Homo sapiens: one gene and its partners. The protein of the gene in region 1 interacts with the protein of each later gene in a biochemical or structural test. Each region holds a gene or a part of one and is shown on either strand. Other genes may lie near its edges.

What was found. The genes of interacting proteins can lie anywhere in the genome.
Region 2: the proteins of COL2A1 (region 1) and COCH interact in a biophysical measurement, tested with the Homo sapiens proteins (one study listed by IntAct).
Region 3: the proteins of COL2A1 (region 1) and THBS1 form a complex in vitro, tested with the Homo sapiens proteins (one study listed by BioGRID).

What each region holds. Positions count from the first base shown.
Region 1 is NC_000012.12:48,001,477-48,008,755, forward strand, and holds the start of COL2A1 (collagen alpha-1(II) chain isoform 1 precursor), read right to left. Parts: upstream 3,001-7,279; 5' UTR 2,846-3,000; coding exon 2,761-2,845; intron 78-2,760; exon of another isoform or gene 1-77. UniProt on the Homo sapiens protein: Type II collagen is specific for cartilaginous tissues. It is essential for the normal embryonic development of the skeleton, for linear growth and for the ability of cartilage to resist compressive forces.
Region 2 is NC_000014.9:30,870,633-30,877,562, reverse strand, and holds the start of COCH (cochlin isoform b precursor), read right to left. Parts: upstream 3,005-6,930; 5' UTR 2,972-3,004; exon of another isoform or gene 2,648-2,971; 5' UTR 2,625-2,647; coding exon 2,591-2,624; intron 2,508-2,590; coding exon 2,460-2,507; coding exon of another isoform or gene 2,265-2,459; intron 1,385-2,264; exon of another isoform or gene 1,011-1,384; intron 1-1,010. UniProt on the Homo sapiens protein: Plays a role in the control of cell shape and motility in the trabecular meshwork.
Region 3 is NC_000015.10:39,584,061-39,591,082, forward strand, and holds part of THBS1 (thrombospondin-1 precursor), read left to right. Parts: coding exon 1-127; intron 128-239; coding exon 240-362; intron 363-1,409; coding exon 1,410-1,503; intron 1,504-2,065; exon of another isoform or gene 2,066-3,193; intron 3,194-3,286; coding exon 3,287-3,460; intron 3,461-3,981; coding exon 3,982-4,158; intron 4,159-4,465; coding exon 4,466-4,639; intron 4,640-4,898; coding exon 4,899-5,026; intron 5,027-5,141; coding exon 5,142-5,294; intron 5,295-5,744; coding exon 5,745-5,963; intron 5,964-6,455; coding exon 6,456-6,563; intron 6,564-7,022. UniProt on the Homo sapiens protein: Adhesive glycoprotein that mediates cell-to-cell and cell-to-matrix interactions.

The sequences.
Region 1 (7,279 bases):
GAGAGGGGGCATCGGTTAATGCGCTCCAGCCCAGACTACAGGAGAGCCCACCCTCGCCCATGAGGACCCAGGGAGGAGAGGGGGAAATGCTAGGAGAGGGGCCACTCCCCGTGCGGATCAGATTTCCCGGGGAAGGGCGGCCCGGGAAGCGCCGGCGCAGGGGCGGGGCCAGGCTGCGCTGGGTGTAAGAGCCGCTGAGTGACTCTGTGGCTGCGGCTCTGGACACGGCTCGCTCACAGACACCGGGAGAGTGAAAAGTGGGATTAAATGACTGCCCCAGAAAGGAGCCAGCGCCGTAACCGGATCCCCTAGGTGTGGACGGAGGAGCCCAGCACCACCATAATTGCTGCTCCAAAACGGCTGCCGATAGCATCCCGGCGCGCCTGATCCGGTTCCCCTCATTACCGCAGGGCCGTATAAGTGATTCTTTGTGGCAAGCCAATTAAAAAGCTACCTCTTTCGGGGAACTGTTTTGCTTCACCGCCGCTCTGCGCAGGGCTGGAGCCGAGAGGTGGCGGCGGGCGGGCACAGGGGGGCATTGTGGGAGAGGGGGTCTGGGAGTACGAGAGAACCCACTGGACCTCGTCTCTCATGAATGGGGCTTTTCTCGAGCGCACACAGAGCCCGATTCACAGGTCTCCGCGAGGAACCAGTTTAAATAAATACGGGCAGCGTTTCAGCCCCATCTGGAAGCCATCGCTGCCAATCTCCCAATGCAAACAAGCCTCACAAAGGAGGATTGAGATCTCTCCCCTGAGCCAGGGGCACTTTCGGAGGCGAGGGCTCTGAAATGCAGATGAGGGTCAAAGACGCCGCCGCCAGTAAGTTTCTCAAACTCGTGGAAAGATGGAGAGGAGGGGTGTGGCCGAGCTCTAGGTGTCTGACATTCCTGACGTCCACGCAGACTGCGCATTTCCCCACGTCACACCTTTGGGTCCGCTGACCCCAGGCGGGGGAAGTTATAAAAGGTGGGATGCTCCAGGGCGCAAAATCAGCCTCTCGGATGCAGAATCACACTCCCTCTGGGAGGAGGAGCGACTGGAAGGTTTGGGCCGGAGAAGCTGTGGAATCACTCCCTCCCAGGAAAGATGCGGCGATGAGAGAGCTCTACCGCCTAATTAAGCAAGCGACCCTAATACCGGATGGAGAATTTGAGAATTATTTTAAAGCCACCCAGCTAATTCCATTGCGCACTAAGGCAGGGGTCAGTCAAGAAGACAGCTTTGTGGGCGTGTGCTTGTAAATGTAGTACAAAAATATAGTCAGTCTGAGTCCAGGCCACGTATAGTCACGCTGTATTCCTCAAATGCCCAGGAGCGCGCCTCCAGCTTAGCGCACTACCGGGTGACCCGGCCAGAGTCTCCTGCTCCCGGCTCCTCGCAGCTGCGCCGCAGGCTCCAGCCCTGCCCCCGCTGCGCTAATGACCGGAAAGCCCGCCTGAGCCCGCCGCCTTCCACGCTATCCCTGGAAACAGCCTGGTGGCAGGAGAGGGCCCACAGAGCCTCGAAGGCAGAGAACTTTTATTCCCCCCGCCGAAGAGTTTCCCTCTGCGATTGATTTACAATCTGTAACATACAAAGACAGGGCTGGAATCCCAGCCGTCGGAAACGTGCCCAAACACGTGGAAAAAAAAATCCTCTCTACCTAATACACTTTCCAGGCTTCGTTTGTCCTGAATATAATCCCAGACAGTGGACCTTACCAAAGGAGGGGTAGAAAGGTGCAGTCCGAACAGCATTTGGACCCGACTACAAGAGCCATCTCTAACTATACCGGTTGAAATAGTTGTAGCAACCGTAGCAATCGACCAGCCTGCTCCCCTTCCCTGACACACACATACACACACACACACGCACACACACACACACCACGCAGCCTGGCTCGGTGAGTTCCAGAATTTAGAAAAGTAACTCATTGTAGTACCTCGGGGCGGCGGGGAATGGGGTAAGACCGCGGGGAAGGGGGCGCTATTTTCGGGGGCATTTGAAAAGCACGGTCTGGTTGGAATGTTATCGTCTTTCAGATGGCCTCTCCTACTGGAAGTTTCTGTACCCTTTATCAGAAGAGAGGCGCAGGCGGACGGAGGGAAGTCGAGATGAGCGCTAGGGCTGCACCTTGCTCCAGGGCCAGCTGGGAGGGGGAGGGTACCCTAAAGAGGCGCTGAGGTCTCAGAGGGCCTATCGGAAGCCGTTCTTTGTGGCCTGGGATTTCAGCCCACCAGTGTCAGAGTGTTAGTCCCCTTTGTCTAACTCTGCTTTGAGCCCACCAGCCACCAAGCCTTGGACAGGCTGTGAAGTCAACCCTTTGGCGTTTGCTTGCTCCCTCGCTCGCGCTCTCTCTTTCCTACTTCACCTAAGTTCGATGAGTTGAGATCTGTTTTTGCTGAACTCGAAGTGCTTCGAAGAGGCGAGCTGTGTGCATGTGCGCCTAATTATCAAAGCTGGTGGAAAAGAGCCCATTTATATCTGTGCGCAAACTTCTCCGAGCCAACACTTTGCAAGTTCAGTATTCTAGCGCAACGTAGGGACCTGCAAATACTTGCAACTGCGATGGGCACCGAGGACCCTGGGACAGAGTCCTTGATTGGCAGAACTCTTCTTGGTGAACTTCTGCGTGTCCTGTGCCTAAGTCGGCGCGCTACGACCCCGGGAGCCGTTTTAGCCCGGAGCCGCGGGCTCCAGAGCTGGAGCGGGCCGGGGAGAAGGATGCTGAGGGACGCATGGAAAGCAGGCAGGCAGGCAGGGGCGGGGGAAGACTTACGGACATCCTGGCCCTGACACCGAAGGACAGCGGCGACGAGCAGCGTCAGCAGCACCAGCGTCTGGGGAGCCCCGAGGCGAATCATGGCTCACCGCGGGGCCTGGCTGAGCCGGGCCCGGGCGGAGCGCAGCGAAACGGCAGGAGCACGGCGCGGGTCCGGGTCTCTACCGCGCCCTCATGCAGGAGGCCCTTGGAGCAGGAGGGGGAAGCGGGAGACCCGGCAGCCCAGCAGCGCTCTGCGTCTTCTCCCCGCCGCGGCGCCCGTTATATGCGCCCGGCCCCTTTCGAGGCTGGCGAACTCGCCCAAACCGCGGGCCGCCCCCTGCCCCCCGCTGGGCTGTAACCTGAACCGCCCGCCCCCGGAGCCCGCCTGGGCCCTGCCAGTGCCCGCACCTGCCCAAGCCGGACCCCCCTCTCTGGGAGTCACGCTTCCCGCCCTCCACCCCTAGTGCGCCGAGTGGCCTGATCGGGCGGGGCGCAGAGATGGCCCCTGCCCCCCAAACCCGGGGCTGCGGCGCTGCCCCCCTCTGACCACAGGCGGGAAGGGTGGCCTCCGGCCCCTCCCCTCGGAGTTCTGCCGGAGTTGGAGGGGAGGGGGTGTTTGCAGAGGCGCAGGCCGAGAGCCCTAGACCAAGGACGGAAAAGACATGGGAGGGAGGAGGGAAAGCGGTAGAAAGGAGCAGCGGAGGGCGAGGGGGCACCGCGTCAGGCGTTTGGGAGTGGGGACAGGGAGGAGCCCACAGAGATTCAGAGTCCTAAATCTTGGAGACAGGCTAGCTGAGCCAGATCTGAAGGGTTACCCCGACCTATCTTTTAGCCCTTCCCTGCAGTACCTGGTCCCCAGACTCCCACCTGGACGTTCACAGCGACTGCCCTCCACCCCTCCCCCATCCAGCTCTGCGTTGAAGGCTTCCTCTGGAGCACAGGCCGAAGTTGGCCTGAGCCGACAGCCAGGAAAAGAGCTGGTGTGTTACTGCACAGAAGGAGACCTGTGTGAAGGTGTGGGGGGCAGGGGCAGGCCCTGGGAAGGGGACTGAAAGAGCCACAGAGGACGGAGGGAGCCGAGACTAAACGGTGCAAGCTGCCTGCTGTGGGGGGACTGTCTAGCTCCAGGCTCAGACGTGGTGTCTGCTCTTCCTGGCTGGGGTCCGGGAGTCCCCCGGGGAGTGGGCACTGCCGGCCGTCGTAGAGCAGCTTTGGCCAGGGACGGTTGGTCACTGCTGCGGCCCTGGCCAGGGATCGGGGAGGCCGATCCAGCTGGCGAGTTCTGTGAGCCGGGGAGAAGCGCCAGAATTTCCCAGTCGGCCCCCTAGCCCTCCGCTTGCCGCCTCACCTCACCTTCCCCGGTGAGCGCCCTCTCTCACCTTAGCCAAACTGCCTTCTTCCCAGGGCTTAGCTGGTCTCTTCTCTTGGTCTCCGGTGCCTCCTTTCATACCAGGGAGGAAACGTCCCCAAACAGACCTTCCTTTTGAGCGATATGGTCCCCCAAAGAACTATAGGCAAAATGAAACTCAGAATTTGGGGTCTGACTTAACCAGAACTTCTGCCCTCCTGGGCAGTTTTGTTTCTCTGGAGCTTTCCCCCTAGAAGCTGAGAGCACTTGAAAGAAGCTACTTCTGGGCCTTAGGCTTCCACCAGGGGTCCTGGGACCCCATCCCTAGCCTATCATGCTTTGACACTTGTCCTGGTAGAGGCTGGAGTTCCAAGTGCTCTGGTTGGAAAGGGAAAGAACTCATTGTTGAAGGAAATGCTTCTAGGCTTTGTCCAGTCTGGATGGAGATGGGGAAGAATTCAACCAGTTTCCAGCATCTCCCCTACCTTCCACGGGCCTTGTCTGAGTCTCCATGCTCCCATTCAGGGGCTTGCATTAAGCTCTGGGCTCTTCCTCAGGCCCAATCTCTGCTAGAAGAAAGCTGGTCTCTTGCCATCAGTGCCCCATGTCCTCTTTGGGGCTCAGAAGGTCCTATATTCTCTACCTGGAAGATAGAATGACCAAATTCCACACATTTATCAAGACCTCCTAGGTTAAAGCCCCTCTGAGAAGCCTTCTCTGATATCTCTAGAACACAACGTCTCCCTGGCTTTCTGAATCCCCCTGGCATTTATAGCCTAAGCTACATATGTTTTTGTGTAGTTTTAATTTTTTCCCCTTATATCCATTGGTCTTTATCTCATCAATGAGCTTGGAAGATGCTTGGGGACAAGAACTGTGCCTAGCACAATTCTAACACATAGGAGTTAGGAAAGCCCCTGTGGACTAATAATTTAGATACAACTATAAAGGCATTTATACAACTGACTTCAAATACAAGTTGTCATAAAAATTCAACAGAAAAAAAAAGAATTTGGGAGAACACACTAAAGTATGTGGAAAAAATCGAAGCCTAGTTCAAAATGATCCAGTTTAGTGAGTAGCAAAGTGGTACAGACTCGTTGCAAATTTGTTCTTAATTTCATCCTCTAGCTCTGTGATTCATCTTTGCCAATAGACTGTGTCTACATATAAGAGCTTTGGATTCCTTCCAGCAATCATGGTCCATCTATGAGTACAAGTTAAGCTCTCCACCCACTGTGGGAAAATTTCTTTTCACCAGCAACGGGAATTGACATAAGAAAAATAAAATTTAAAATTTAAATTGACAAAGCCAAAATAAACTATGGAAATTATTAAAATTCTAAAGCCAATTGAACACCAACATTAATATTTTACCCATCTGTGACTCCAAACAACTAATTAAAAACCTCTAATTTGTGACTCAAACTGGAATTAGACCTATATGTGGCACACATATGCAAATCACTGATTTGGAAATTGATCGTCCAACAATCTCACTATCCATACCATACCCAAGAAACTGAAAAGAAGGGGAACTAAACCACTAAATAGCCAGAATTGATGTTATATAAAGCTATGCATTTTGTGCACTGTAGAGTCCTTCTTACTCCATGTCTGCTAATTCATAGTTTAGATATTGTATTAACACGTAATGGCATCTGACCTCACCAATTAGATGCAGAAAACTAGAGGTGAGATAGGAAAGCAGCAGTTGTTGATGAAGCACAATGAGAACAGGAAAAAGGGAGAGTAAGAGAGGACACAGAAAAGCAATGTGAAGTTGACACAACAAATACAAAACATGGTAGCCGAAGGTCAGTGGGGTAGGGTCAATGCCCTTACAGTCATCAATGCTTCCAGGGAATATCCCGATCTACAGCATCTGCTGTAGTCCCTGCGATTCATAATGATAAACTGAAATGTCCAATAAAATGCTAATTTAAGTTTAATGTGGTCTCTTTGAGGAGACAGGAAATATGTATTCCATATTTGAGAAAGGTTGTAAATAAATGTTCATTCACTTAATGTGAAAAATATTCTATCATAGCAGTGTCAGACTAATAAGGAAATGCTGCAATTTCTGGAGCCACTGAACTGAAAACAAAGAGCTTCTGTTTTCCCCAGTTGGTAGAAGAAGAGCATCGATGGCCGAGATGAGTGTCCCACATGGCCAGCCTCACTTACACCTTTAAGTACAGCATGGGTAACTGTAGGTAGAACAGTTAGAAATTAAACAGGTACAATAGGGTGCTGTGCCTCACACCTATAATCCCAGCACTTTGGGAGGCCAAGGCCAGAGGATCACTTGAGGTCAGGAGTTTGAGACCAGCATGGCCAATATGGTGAAACCCCATCTCTACAAAAATATGAAAATTAGCTGGGTGTGGCGGTGTGCACCTGTAGTCCCTTAGGAGGCTGAGGCAGGAGAATCTCTTGGACCCGGGAGGCAGAGGTTGCAGTGAGTTGAGATTGCGCCATTGCACTCCAGCCTGGGCAACAGAGCGAGACTTCATCTCAAACAAAAGAAAGAAAGAGAGAGAGAGAGAGAGAGAAAGAAAGAAAGGAAGAAAGAAAGAAAGAAAGAAAGAAAGAAAGAAAGAAAGAAAGAAAGAAAGAAATTAAACAGTCACAATCAGTGTATCTACCCCAAGTCAGCCCAATTCAGAGAAACAGATGGATTAAATCAGCAATATTGTGTCGTGTAGACAAAATAACCATTTCACTATTTTTCTCTCTTTTATGGAGGCATTAAATTTAGACTCAGGTTGACACAGCCTTATTGGGAAAGATATTTGTAGACAGGCTGTAAAGAAAAGATATCTTTCTCTTCCTCTACACAAATCCCATTTAAAAATAGTGATAAAGTGAAGAAGGATTCACATTCCAAAGAGGTAAGCCCACCCCAAATATGGCAGGTGGTGAATGCACAGACTTCACACAGCAGCCGTGCCTGGGGGTGGTGAGCCCAGCTTACTCAGTGACACTCAGCTTCTGTTGGTTGGGCTCCGTTCAGACAGTCTTTCAAGATGTGTTTATGTTTTCCTTTGGCATTTTGGGGGCAGAGTAACAGAATCAAGACTGTCCAGGATAGGGTTTTCCAGATTTATGGTGTACATTCCATTCCATAGGAGCATAAATGTGTTACTATGTATTCTCAAATGCAAATAGCACCAAGAATCCCAC
Region 2 (6,930 bases), on another chromosome or scaffold:
AAGGAGATAATATTGTAAGCATTCTTAGGACTTCTTGGGGCATAGTGGTGGGGAGACTACAGTGTGAGATTTAAGTTTTACTTCCCTAATTTCTACACTTCTAGTTATGACTATTGACTTATATACCCTTCCATACCATTCCAGATTTTGGCAAGCCACAAGGTTGTTTTCCAATTTAATATAGTCCCCAGCCACTATAAAACTCTAATGTGAAAGTTCTGGGTTTTTATTTCGTTTTTGTTTTTGAAATGGGGACTCGCCAAGTTGCCCAAGCTAGGCTCAAATTCCCGAGCTCAAGTGATCCACCTCCAACTCCCTAGTAGCTGGGATTACAGGTGTGCCACTGTGCCTGGCTTCTCAGTTCTTAACCAGGTTGGAAATACATAATTGGAACTATATCTGAACTAGAAAATAAAAGTCATTTAATATTAATTATAGAAATATAAAAAATCTTGGCTGGGCGTGGTGACTCATGCCTATAATCCCAGCACTTTAGCAGGCCAAGACAAGAGGATTTGCTTGAGTCCAGGAGGTCAAGACCAGTCTGGACAACATAGCAAGACCTCATCTCTTCTAAAAAAAAAAAATTTTTTTTAAATGGCCACACGTGGTGGTGCATGCCTGTACTCTCCGCCACTGGAGAGGCTGAGGTGGGAGGATTGCTTGAGCCCGGGAGTTCAAGCTTGCAATGAGCTATGATTGCATCACTGCACTCCATCCTGGGTTACAGAATAAGATCTTGTCTCCAGAAGAAAAAAAAAAATTTTTAAATCTCAACTTTGATGACGCTATGTACACAGTTGCTTGAGGTAAAGATAGTAAATCTGGATTGAGCCTTTGTGGAACATTTTCATAGACATGTGCACAAATCAAAGCCATCCTTTCCTTCATAGGACCATTTATCCTAGTTAGCCTACAAATGCAGATCCTTAAACTCACACATTAAGGAAGCCAACAAAAAGATGCTTAGATTCACAGAAAGTTATCTAACTTGATTGTTCATTTTATAGATGAGAAAATTAAAGCCGTGGGGTTAATTTGCCCAAACAACATTCTACAACTCCCGAAGGACAGAAAACAGAAAAGTGAATCCCTTCAGAATACAGCATTTTTATCTTAATTGAACCTGATTATTTCTGCTCCAGATCTGTCCAGTGAGATTTATCAAGCAGCGGATGCATTTTTAGAAAGCACTGTTAATATTCTCAAGTTTTACACTGTCAACCTAACAAAGAATCAGTTTTTACTATAAATGATGCTAGGAAGAGACAAGCTCTTGGCAACAAGTAACAAGATAACATAATACAACATGTTAATTTGTGAATTTACTGTCGATACTAAATTGAGATTAATGTTATTAAATGCTATTTTTCAAACATGGGAAGTTGTAGTTATCCAAACCTTTTTAAAACATATATTAATTTTAAAAACCTTTTTTTTCCAAGGCAGAGGAATACTTTCTGGCCATACTGTCCAACTGAGTACCTTGCCTGTGACAAGCACCCTCCTCTGTGCCCTTTGTGGTGACAGGTACCTTACATTCCATGGAAGAGAAGGAAGGATGCAGGCGCAATGCCCATTTCTTAGCTCTGAAGCAGTCTAGAGAGCTGAGAGGTTAAAATCCTTACCCCTAAACAGCCTCATACCTATCATCAAACAGCCTTAATCCTTCCTCCCATTTTCCGCTGAGATGGGGGCGGCATCGGAATCCGGTGCCAAGACCGACCGCCTTTAGTTGCGAACACTGACTTTTGTTAAGTAGAGCGGGAGAAATACAGCCATGAGGGATACTTAACCCTCATTCCTACTTTCAAGGAAAACAAACGGTAGCTCTTAGGAAAGCGTTGCCTTTTACACTGGAAAATACACCAAACCACACACCCATACCCGGACCTCTACACGTGGTACAAACTTTTTAAACTCTCTAGCGTGTAGAGTGAGACCGCGAGTGCTTCTGATTATAGGGGTTACACCTAGAAACATAGCTAGCGAGTCAAACAAGGTGGGACAGCGACGTTCGCCTCCCTCTCTCTCGGCTACGGCAACCTGAAGTCGGGTCTGGGCGGCTTCTCCTCCACCCCCAAACGCAGCAGAGCCCAGGACTGGTGCGCTCCTCGGTGAGGCTCAAGGAGTCCTCCTTCCTCGACCTCCTGCTGCCGGCGCTCAGCGGGCCCGGGGTCTGGGGCTGTGGGTGGGCCTGGAGGAGGCCTTCTTCCTAGTGCTCTTGGAGAACGTCCCCCCACTGGACCCCAGGGGCCCCCTACCATGGGAGAAACAGGTGAGCAGGAGCAGATCGGCTGCAGGGGTTAACGCGGGCGCGCCACGCGGCGGCTCAACCTTCGCGCCTTCCTCCTCAGGCGGTAGGGCTGAAGCCCAAGGGGCTGGATCTGAGTCCCGCTTGTACCCGCTGGTGCTCAGCCCCTGCGACCGCCTGGACGCACCCCAGCTCCCCCACTCACCGGCTCCCTCGCTGCCCGCGGGCCCCGGCAGCAGCAGCAGACACACACCTGCGAAGAGAGAAGCGTGAGGGCTGGCTCCAGCCTCCACCCAGCGGAGCAAGGGGCCGGGGTCGTGAGGGGCGCGCACCCACCGAGGCCGAGAGCCGGGATCCAGGCTGCGGACATGGTGACTGATAGGCTGCTCACACCTGGGAGAGAGGGAGAATGCGGGCAAGGCCAGGGTGCGGGAGGCCCCGCGCGTCACCTCCTCAGAGCCCCGCACCCTTCGGATCCCCGGGCGCGGCGCAGAGGAGAGAGGACACAGACGACCCGCTGCTCCAGGCCAGCGCCCCTCTAGGTCTGGGAGGCGCCTCGGCGGCAAATCGAGCGAAGCCCAGGATCGGTGTGCAACCCCGCACCGCGGGGAGGCGGGGGCGCCAAAACGACGACAGACAGGCTGGGAGCGACAAAGAAACAGGGACAGAGGCGTCAGGGATCCCTCGCACCCGCGCCCGCCGCCCGGGGCTCCGCACCTGCTCGAGATCCACCCGGCTGCGCCCGAGTGCGGAAGGCAAGGCCCCCGCGGCCGCTATAAAGGCTGGGCCGTGCGCATGAGCACTGTGCGGGGGGCGCGGGAGGAAGCGCGGGAGCCGGTCCCCCGGGGCCCGGCGGCGACTTCCAGCTCCGCCTTCGCCCCCTGCCGGCCCCGGGGTGAGGCCGGCGCGGAGGCGCCTCCTCCAGCAGCGCAGGCTCGGCCACCTGGACGCGGCGCCAGTCCCTAGAGGGGCACGAAGGTCCCCGTGCCGGCGTCTCAACGAGTGTGGAGGGCCGGCGGCCCCGACGGCGGCAGCAGCGGCCTCGCCAGCCCTGCTCTGCCGGGACCAGGGCTGCTGAGGCAGCGGCGGCCGCTACCCGCCCCACCCAGCGAGGCCTGGAGCTTCTGAGAGCTGTCAGGTCCACGCGGCCTGAGAACCGAACTTCTCAACTTGGTGCTCTCGTGGAAAGAGTTCCTACTTCTGAAATAAAACCACCCTAGGTTTGGTAAACGCATGCCGCGTTTTTGTTAGAAACCCTGTCAACTGACTGCTAGCTCGTTGGACCTTAGGGATTCGGCCTTGCGCCTTCGTTTCTGCTGGAGTCCTACTTTCCCCAGTGGTTCAATTTGTGCTCCTGCCTAGAGCCACGCGTGTGAGACAGCCCTGACCCCAGCAGCCGGTACCTTTGCTTCTTTCTCACCTCAGGAAGAATTTATGCCTGATTGCCTTTCGAAATTCCCAGACTTGGTGTCTTGTGACTGCACAGAATCTCAGATTTGATAATGTGTTCTCCTTCTCCCCGCACCATCCTGCTAACGTTTTACAAATGGAAATGGAGAAGGAGCAGAATTCTTGAGGAGTGTTAGTGACAGGCGACCTGCATGGCAGCGGAAGAACCAGACCCAGGCCCAGACGCTAACCTTTCTGGTACAATATAAACTTTTTCAAATAGCCTTATTTAGTTACAATTTACATGCCATAAAATCCATCCGTTTTGAGTGTACAGTTCAATGATGTTTAGTAAATTTTCAGAGCTGTACAACCATCACCACAAGCCAATTTCAGAACAGGTTCATCCTCCCCAAAATGATCTCCTCGCCATTGTCAGTCAGTCTCTTCTCCCACTCCTAGTCCTAGGCAATCACTAACCTATTTCCTGTCTCTATAGATTTTTCTTAGTGGTCGTTTCTTATAGATGGGATTATACATTGTGCGGCTTCCTTCACTGCACAGAATGTTTTTGAGGTTCATCCATGAGGCATTATAGAACAGTACTTCCTTTCTTTTTATTGTTGAAAAGTATTCCCATGCCATTTTATACTGAGAAACAAATACACCACCATCACCTGGAAGTCAACTAGTGTAGTAGTCTTAATTACAACTATCTTCCTGATTGGAATGACTTAGTATTTGTATCAGGCAACTAAGGAGTGTTGATTTCATTCCCTTTACTACCTGAATGTCTTCTGGAGGGAAAGAGACCAAATAACATTTGAGGGCTGGGAGGTTTTTGATGTTTATTTTCATGGCTGCTTTCAAGATTTACTCCCTTCCCTGGTATAGAGAATTACCCTTTTCTTAGAAATCCAGTAATCTAGCCACTGCCCCTGATATTTTCCATGGGAGAAATTTCAAGCCTCAGGACAATTAAAGCTGTCTTTTCCATTATTGTTTATTGAGTGTCCTCAATCAGGGTTGGATAACCTCCCCTAATTAGGCTGGACAAATTGTCATGATGCTATATAATTAGGAAGAGTCTGTACGCTGGAAAAAACCTGCCACTTCACAGCTCAGCAGGCAGGTCCCAAATGGCCAAAGGGGTAGATGCTATTCAGAGCCCCCACAGGGCACTGGCAGCCCTCCTGTGATGTAATTTCAGTGAGTGATTTGGCAGAGTCAAAACTATGCAGCTATTTCCATGACAGACCCTGAGTCTGTAACCATTAAAAAATAAAGGAAATACCTCACTGAATTTCATGGTTGTTTACTGAGATTCATCTTAATTATTTTGTTTTGAAACATTTAAGAGAAGTTACTCTGTCTTTACTATTTTTTTCTTTTTGGTAAGGCCAACCAAGGAGAGTGGAAGAGTGGGGTTTAGACTCTCATTCTTAGCTAGTTTGTAGTTCATGCTCACCATAAGTATATTAAAGAAAAATATCTGAATTTAAGAGGTAATTGCCTCTGCTTTGGAAATATCTGAAGAGAGTCAAATCTAGGTATATTTGACTTAAAAAGACAAATTGTTAAAATGACAGAGTTTTGTATTCAGTTGGGTGATATTTTAGGGTAATCGTACTCCTAGGATGCCTGGTTAATCCTGCTTTATTATTTTTTTAAATATTTTATTTTATTTTATTTTATTTGAGATGGAGTTTTGCTCTTGTCTCCCAGGCTGGGGTGCAATGGCGCTATCTCGGCTCACTCCTACCTCTGCCTCCCAGGTTCAAGCAATTCTCGTGCCTCAGCCTCCTCCTGAGTAGCTGGGATTACAGGCACGTGCCACCACAACTGGCTAATTTTGTATTTTTAGTAGAGATGGGGTTTCACTATGTTGGCAAGGCTGGTCTCCAACTCCTGACCTCAGGTGATCCACCTGCCTTGGCCTCCCAAAGTGCTGGGATTACAGGCGTGAGGCCCGGCCTCATTATTTGTTAATTTTTAATTTAATTTAATCTTATTATATTGTTATTAATTACTATTATTAGAGACTTATTCTCACTCTGTCATCCAGGCTGGAGTGTAGTGGCACAATCAAAGCTCACTGCGGCCTCAAACTCCTATGTTCAAGAGATCCTCCCACCTCACCCTCCTGAGTAGCTGGGTCTACAGGTACACACCACTATGACTGGCTCATTTTTTACTTTTTGTAGAGAGGTAGTCTCATTATTTGCCCAGGCTGATTTCAAACTCCTCACCTCACGTGATCCTCCCGCCTGGGCCTCCCCAAATGTGGGGATTATAGGCATGAGCCACTGCGCCTGATTTTATCCTACTTTAGTGGGAAGTATTTGATATTCAAAATTTAGATGAACTCCGTGTAGAGCAGTGGATTCCTGTCTGGGCTGCACGTTGGAACTACCTGGAGAGCTTTAAAAATACTCATGCCTGGGTCCCACCCCAGAGATTTTAATATAATTGGTCTGGGCTGGGGCCAGGGCATTAGAATTTTTAAAAGCTCTCCAGGTGATTCTAATGTGCAGTCCAGGTGCTCAGTGTTAGAGGTTAAGCTAATTCTGCTAATCTTTCATTCTTCTTTCATTATCTTTTCGTTAAAATCCAACTTTAATATGCCTACTGCATTCCCCTGATAAAAAATGGAAGCATTTTCTGGCCTGATGGTTGTTTAAAAACAATCCCTAACAAAAAGATTGAAAACTCAATTTCAAAAGTAATTTTCCCTGGGAATGCTGCACAGTCACATTTCTGACTTTGTGCAGAATGCGCTGGCATTGTTAGGGAAATAAGCTGCCTCTAACACTGATACCTGGGTGGCATTGTCAGGCTTCAGGATGCTGCTGATGGCCCTAAAAGAGTTTCTCAAGGATGGCATAGTTACCTGATGGGATTTGGCTTGTGCTTACACAGATAAAACTCTTAGTTTATATAGGCTCTGTCTCTGTTCCGTTGTTACCTAGGTATGAATCTGCCCCTGAAGTTTTCATATTTTTGTTGTTGGTCTTTTTTTACTTTATTTTACCTTTTAAAGGAGTATCCAGTCCTGTTCTATCCTCTATACCATTTAAGCTCCCCGGTAAACTTTTACTTAGCCAATGTAATGCATAGCAACACGGTTTTATTTCGATTATGGTGGCCTCAAAGCAGCTGTCCCCAACCTTTTTGGCACCAGGAACTGGTTCCATGGATGATAATTTTTCCACGGGGTTGGTTGGTGGGGGGCGGATGGTTTTGAGATGAAACTGTTCCACTTCAGATTATCAGGCATTAGATTCTCA
Region 3 (7,022 bases), on another chromosome or scaffold:
TGGCCACAAGACAAAGGACTTGCAAGCCATCTGCGGCATCTCCTGTGATGAGCTGTCCAGCATGGTCCTGGAACTCAGGGGCCTGCGCACCATTGTGACCACGCTGCAGGACAGCATCCGCAAAGTGGTCAGTGGCCTCTGCACCCAGCCCGTTAGCATGAACCCTGGAAGGTTTATCGCAGATGGTCCCAAATGACTGAAAATGCGGGGGGACACTAATGATATTCTCTCCCATTTAGACTGAAGAGAACAAAGAGTTGGCCAATGAGCTGAGGCGGCCTCCCCTATGCTATCACAACGGAGTTCAGTACAGAAATAACGAGGAATGGACTGTTGATAGCTGCACTGAGTGTCACTGTCAGGTAAGGGACCTTCACCAGCCAGAATAAGAATCGACGGCTTTTGTTTGAACCTACATCTTTGGGGAAATACCCTAATCGCCACAGAGATTCTTTTTATGTTCCATGGCCTGATAACAAAGTGTTTTTTTTTTCTTTAAGATGCAATTATGGCATCTATAAGTTCTTCTTTAAACTCTCAGATGGTTTATCAAAGTATTAATTATACCCCAGGCTAAGTATCTAAGAGAATGAATCTACTAAGACATCTGAATAATTTACCTACCTTAGTTCAAAGACTAAGTGTTGAATGTCAGGTAAATAAAACCTGGTTGGAACATTCATTTTTTTTTCCCAACCCTGATTTATATTCAGCTTTGGCATAGGTTCTTTTAGTACAGTAGCAATTGTTTTTCAAATCACTTAGTCTGACACTGTTAGGATGTTACTGTCTGCTTTGCTCAGATGGCACTGCCAGGTGTGTGATTCACTCTAGCATCCCCGCATGCCAGTGGCCAGTGAGTTTGGAGGTTCACCTGGCTTATCTATTAATAGCAAAGTATTTGAATTTGCTTAAATACAAATCACAGATGACTGGCTGTGGGAACCAACTTCATTAAATTCCCTTTCTTTTCCAATATAAAGACAGATCACAGATCTATAGATGAGGAAAAAGTGCTTATAGATCTTCCTTCCTCCCCCCAAACACATAATATAAAAATGTAAAAGTCCTGGCTGAATTTTCTGAGTTTGATTTCAGACATAGATTTGACCCATGATGTTTGTTGGTTCCTCTGCTATAAATTCTTTGTACTGTAACTTCCACCCTTGACTAAGTAGCAATTAAAAAGAACTTTCCAAGGAATGGAGTGACACGTAAACTAGCACTAGAACTGTCTCTACGATAGTGGTGGCTGCAAATATGACAGAGACAGATCTATGAAAATCATTCCACTAGAGCATTGACAGCCCTGACCATGTTTTGGCTTGTAAAGGAAATGTTACAGGATGTAGACTTCTGTATGCAACATGCTCAGCAGCCTGTTCCCCTCTCACTCTCTTGCCCTGCAGAACTCAGTTACCATCTGCAAAAAGGTGTCCTGCCCCATCATGCCCTGCTCCAATGCCACAGTTCCTGATGGAGAATGCTGTCCTCGCTGTTGGCGTAAGTTTCTCAAATGGCATAGCTATTCTTCAGTGACTAGGTCAGTTCTACATACATCCTAGACAGCCGAGCACAACACTGGAACCCCACCCCCATCTCCATCATGCTTCCATTCAGTTTCTTGCTGCAGCAGCTGGTTAACTGACAGCTTATCTGCTGTACAGAGCCAAAACTCCATTATGAGTACATCGTAATTACCCATCTGGATTGCAGTAATGGCAGTGAAGATCTTGGTATAGCTCATTAATTCTGATTTTTTGCTTTGAGGAAAAGAGATGAAGACGTGGCAGCAACAGCTCTAAGTTGACTGCTTTTAGAATTTGACCTTAGTGGCACAGAGTTAAGAAAAATCTGCTCACCAGAGATATTGACAGGCTTACTGTGTAAGCATTGGCCTGATCGGGCCTGGAAGTTTTGCCCCTTTCATCTGTAGGGATAAGAGGGCCTAAGAGAATAGCAGCAATCTGAGCTCTAGAGCACCAAAAGAAATAAGGCACGATATCGTTCCATGGCACGTTATCCCTGGCTTTTGTTACCAGTAAAATGAATGACTTTGCTGAGACAATACTTAGTGTAGCAGGTACAAGTTATAAAAGTGATTCATTACAACTAAGATAAGGAAGAAAACAGGAAAACAGCACTTGCCCTTCACACACACAGAAACACACATGCACACACACACAAACACACCCTTGTCACAGCTCAGAATAACCAATTCCATCCAGGGATCATATTAGCGATATTGGCACTGTAATGGTCGTTTTTACATTTATTTTCTGTTCCGCATTCACTTAACATGTGCGTTAAAAGGAACAAAGCTAGCTGGAGGTAGCAAAGTTTTGAACTTGAATCAGGGATTGCTAAGAAAACTTACAACTAATGACCACAGAAAGTAAGTTCTTTGTCTTCTGTCTGATACAGCTAGATGTGATTGTAGCCGTGGTGCCTGGGCAGATGGTAAACAAACATGCTGTCCTCTTATGACAATATGTGCAGAGAAGGCCCCAAACGCTGGGGTGAGAGGAACAACAAACTGACTAACTCACGGCCGAGTTGGAGCCAGAACCAACAACAGCTCGGCTGCCTTCACACTCATCTGTCAAACACATGGTGTATGGCTCCCCTGACAGAAATGACTCCTATAAGCTTCCTCATACTCGCGCATTCTTGGAAGTCTGAGACTGGAAATGCCTACCCAGATATGTTAAGTCAGTAAAGGAAAACTCATTTGCAATGCTGAGAGGAGAAAGAAAATCAATGAATAGGAGAGCATACACTGTGGGAAGGCTCAGCTGTACTGAGCCAGGCAAAGCATCCGATTACCCCACTGCTGTACACATCATGACCTGGGATAAACCCCTGGGCCGTTGGCCTAAGAAATATGTTGCTTTTCATCCTGTATAACTGCAACTTTGTGCCGGCTCATATTATGTTCTAGAGAGCTCATGTACACCATGGTGACCATAGTTAATAATACTGGATTGTATGCTTAAAATTTGCTAAGAGAGTAGATCTTAAGTCATCACCAAAAAAAGTAACTGTAAGATGATGGAGATGTGTTAATTAGCTTGACGGTGGTAATCACAATATATGTGTATATCAAAACATCACATTATACACCTTAAATGTATATAATATTTGTCAATTATACCTCAGTAAAGCCAAAAAGAAATAAATATATTGCTTTTCACCCTCTGGCAAGTGGAGGGCCCTGAACAGAGCCCTCTAAAGAACAGCTTGTCCTAATCATCACGTACCTGATGAACCTCTGTTTCCCCTGCAGCCAGCGACTCTGCGGACGATGGCTGGTCTCCATGGTCCGAGTGGACCTCCTGTTCTACGAGCTGTGGCAATGGAATTCAGCAGCGCGGCCGCTCCTGCGATAGCCTCAACAACCGATGTGAGGGCTCCTCGGTCCAGACACGGACCTGCCACATTCAGGAGTGTGACAAGAGATGTAAGCATCTTAGCCTCTCAGGGACGTGGAGAACTGACCTGTCCTTGTTGTCGTCACCAAGGGCAGCTCCACAGCATGTATATTAAGAACACGGGTTCTAGGATCTCTGGATCCCAATCCCACTGCTTAGCTGTGCACCCTTGAACACAACTTACCCTCTCTGAGGCTCTTTCCTCATTTGCAACTTGGAGATAATAATAGTTCTTGATAAGTTTATCTTGAGCATTTTATTTAGATACTGCATGTAAAGCAGTTAGCACTGAGTTTTGGTTTATGGTAAGCACCCTGTAAATGTTAGGATATTAACAGCAACCCATAAAAACAGCGAACTTATCCGTTCTCTGGTAGAAAACATTCCATGTTGACATTTGGGCATGTGGCCAGGAGCCAATTTCTACCGTACACTGGGTTTAGTTGCCATTGACCATTTCCTGGAAATACTTCTGCGTGCTCCTGATGGGAGCCTCTATTTGGCTGTCTCTAAGCCAAAACCATTTGTGACCATCAACTCTGTACTTTAGTTAAACAGGATGGTGGCTGGAGCCACTGGTCCCCGTGGTCATCTTGTTCTGTGACATGTGGTGATGGTGTGATCACAAGGATCCGGCTCTGCAACTCTCCCAGCCCCCAGATGAACGGGAAACCCTGTGAAGGCGAAGCGCGGGAGACCAAAGCCTGCAAGAAAGACGCCTGCCCCAGTAAGTGTGAGGTCCGCTGCAAGGGTGAGCATGGGCAGCAGCTCTGCCCAGCTGGTTGCCTGGCATCTGCAGCCTGCAGTTCAGTGGGTCATAGAGCAGGAAGGTTACCTACTAGAGAAACAAACAGAAGCAAAGTCCTGCAGGCTCAGCAACTTCTTTTAATGAAAAACAAACTCACCCTCTTCCCCAGCATTCTTTCCATGTGTCAGAGAAGCAGAGGTTTCTTGAACGGGCTTAGGAGAGTCTATGACAAGGGAGGGATTTGAAAGTTGATCTTAATTGTTGCCTGTGGTTCATCTTCTTACAGTCAATGGAGGCTGGGGTCCTTGGTCACCATGGGACATCTGTTCTGTCACCTGTGGAGGAGGGGTACAGAAACGTAGTCGTCTCTGCAACAACCCCACACCCCAGTTTGGAGGCAAGGACTGCGTTGGTGATGTAACAGAAAACCAGATCTGCAACAAGCAGGACTGTCCAATTGGTGAGCCACGCAGCCCAGGATGAAACGACCCAGGAGCTTTGCTCTTTTACTGAATGCTGCAGTCAGCATTCGAGGAGATTCCAGCTTGGTTAGTCCTGAGCGATTTGATTGCTCTAAGATGCAGGTGGACAACATAATCCCAACAAGTTATCGGTTCCCTATACCCTATAATATCTTACACTGTGTTAAGTGCCCAGCATGGCAGTATGGCAGCTTAGACCAACCATTTACTGTGACTGTCTCTCTCTCCTTGTCTCAGATGGATGCCTGTCCAATCCCTGCTTTGCCGGCGTGAAGTGTACTAGCTACCCTGATGGCAGCTGGAAATGTGGTGCTTGTCCCCCTGGTTACAGTGGAAATGGCATCCAGTGCACAGATGTTGATGAGGTGAGGAACTGATGGGGCTCCGAGTTTCTGGATCTAGGAAAGCAGCTAACCTGTGCAGTCGCTTCCTTATGGCAGTGACTTCTAAACATGATGCACGCTCTTATTTCCTCCATAGTGCAAAGAAGTGCCTGATGCCTGCTTCAACCACAATGGAGAGCACCGGTGTGAGAACACGGACCCCGGCTACAACTGCCTGCCCTGCCCCCCACGCTTCACCGGCTCACAGCCCTTCGGCCAGGGTGTCGAACATGCCACGGCCAACAAACAGGTACAGTCAACTAGACGAGTAAACCAGAGGACAGGAGAGCTGTCCTTGACCAAAATAACTGGGAGCGGGAGGAATGTAATTTCATACCCTTCACCAAAAAAAAAAGGGCGAGGAGATGAATGTACGGTCTAGTTTTAGAAACGTGATTAGAAAATCCATGGTAAATCCTGCAGGGGAAAAACAGTCTTCCATATTTAAAAATGCTGCTCTGGAATAAGTTGTGAGCAGATGGACTTGTAAACGCCTAGGTGCTGAGCAAATTCAAGAAAAATAAACATAAAGCAAAGTTTGCTTATAGCCTCAGGGAGAATGGGGAGGGACAGAGGTAACCCACACTCTTCCAAATGGAGCCTCTGTCTACTCAGAGATGACAGGGATCTGGATTCTTGTTTCCATGATATCTGAGGATTCTCAAAAGCTCTGTGTAACAGCAGCATGGTGTACCCTCAGGTGTGCAAGCCCCGTAACCCCTGCACGGATGGGACCCACGACTGCAACAAGAACGCCAAGTGCAACTACCTGGGCCACTATAGCGACCCCATGTACCGCTGCGAGTGCAAGCCTGGCTACGCTGGCAATGGCATCATCTGCGGGGAGGACACAGACCTGGATGGCTGGCCCAATGAGAACCTGGTGTGCGTGGCCAATGCGACTTACCACTGCAAAAAGGTAGAGCCAGGTCCTTTGTGTGCCTCCAGAAAGAGGGCCCATCACCTTATCAAAACACAGGCTAAGGAATTTTAAATACTTAAAGTTTGGACATGAAACTGAAAGATTAAATCTCCCAAAGGGAGAGGGGCACTAATTCCTATTAAAATTAAATCACTTGGTGCCAAAAACATGAACAGGGCTAGCTCTTTTTGGGCAACTGTGTTCCATAGTCAACTCTTCTGTCCAAAAAAAAGTTCAGTACTCTATCCAAATACCAGCAAAGCATGACTTGTGTTCACAACATCTATAAAGCCTAGAGCATTTACACAAATTCTGTATGTATATCCCCCAAGAAAAGTTTTATTTTCTTGTCTTCCCATAAAAAAAATATGCTGTTACTGAGCCAAATTCTGTTCTTTTTCTATTTGGAATTCCAGGTACACTCCCTCGTGCATGAGCTCAGCATGAGGAAGGCAACTGAAGCAGTGATATATATCTTCTCTTTCCTAGGATAATTGCCCCAACCTTCCCAACTCAGGGCAGGAAGACTATGACAAGGATGGAATTGGTGATGCCTGTGATGATGACGATGACAATGATAAAATTCCAGATGACAGGGTAAAAACAGTTTTCTATCCCTTTTTCATCTTTTCAGTTCAGCAACAGCCTGAAACACTTTGGGATTCAAGGAAATTACATGGCTATAGCAAAAAATATACCAAATCAATACACAGGATAATTAGAAATTATTCATTGTGTTCCAGTAGTTTAAGGATGTAGATGTTGCCAAGAGAATTTTTAAATGAGGGTTTTGTTTTTCATCAGAACTGTTTTTCTCTGTACTTGAGAAATTATAATGCATAAACAAATGCCACTTTGTTCCCTAGATTCATTTCAAATGTCACATCGAAATTACAGTAAAATTGACTTTGGGCACACTATGAACTGAGATGATGGGATTATATTCTACATCTCACTAACTTCTAACCCACAGGGATCCATTTTTTTAACTATGTCCTTTTAACTTTTGTAGTGATCGTTTTACACTGAGTGATCAATTAGCCTATCCACTAGGTA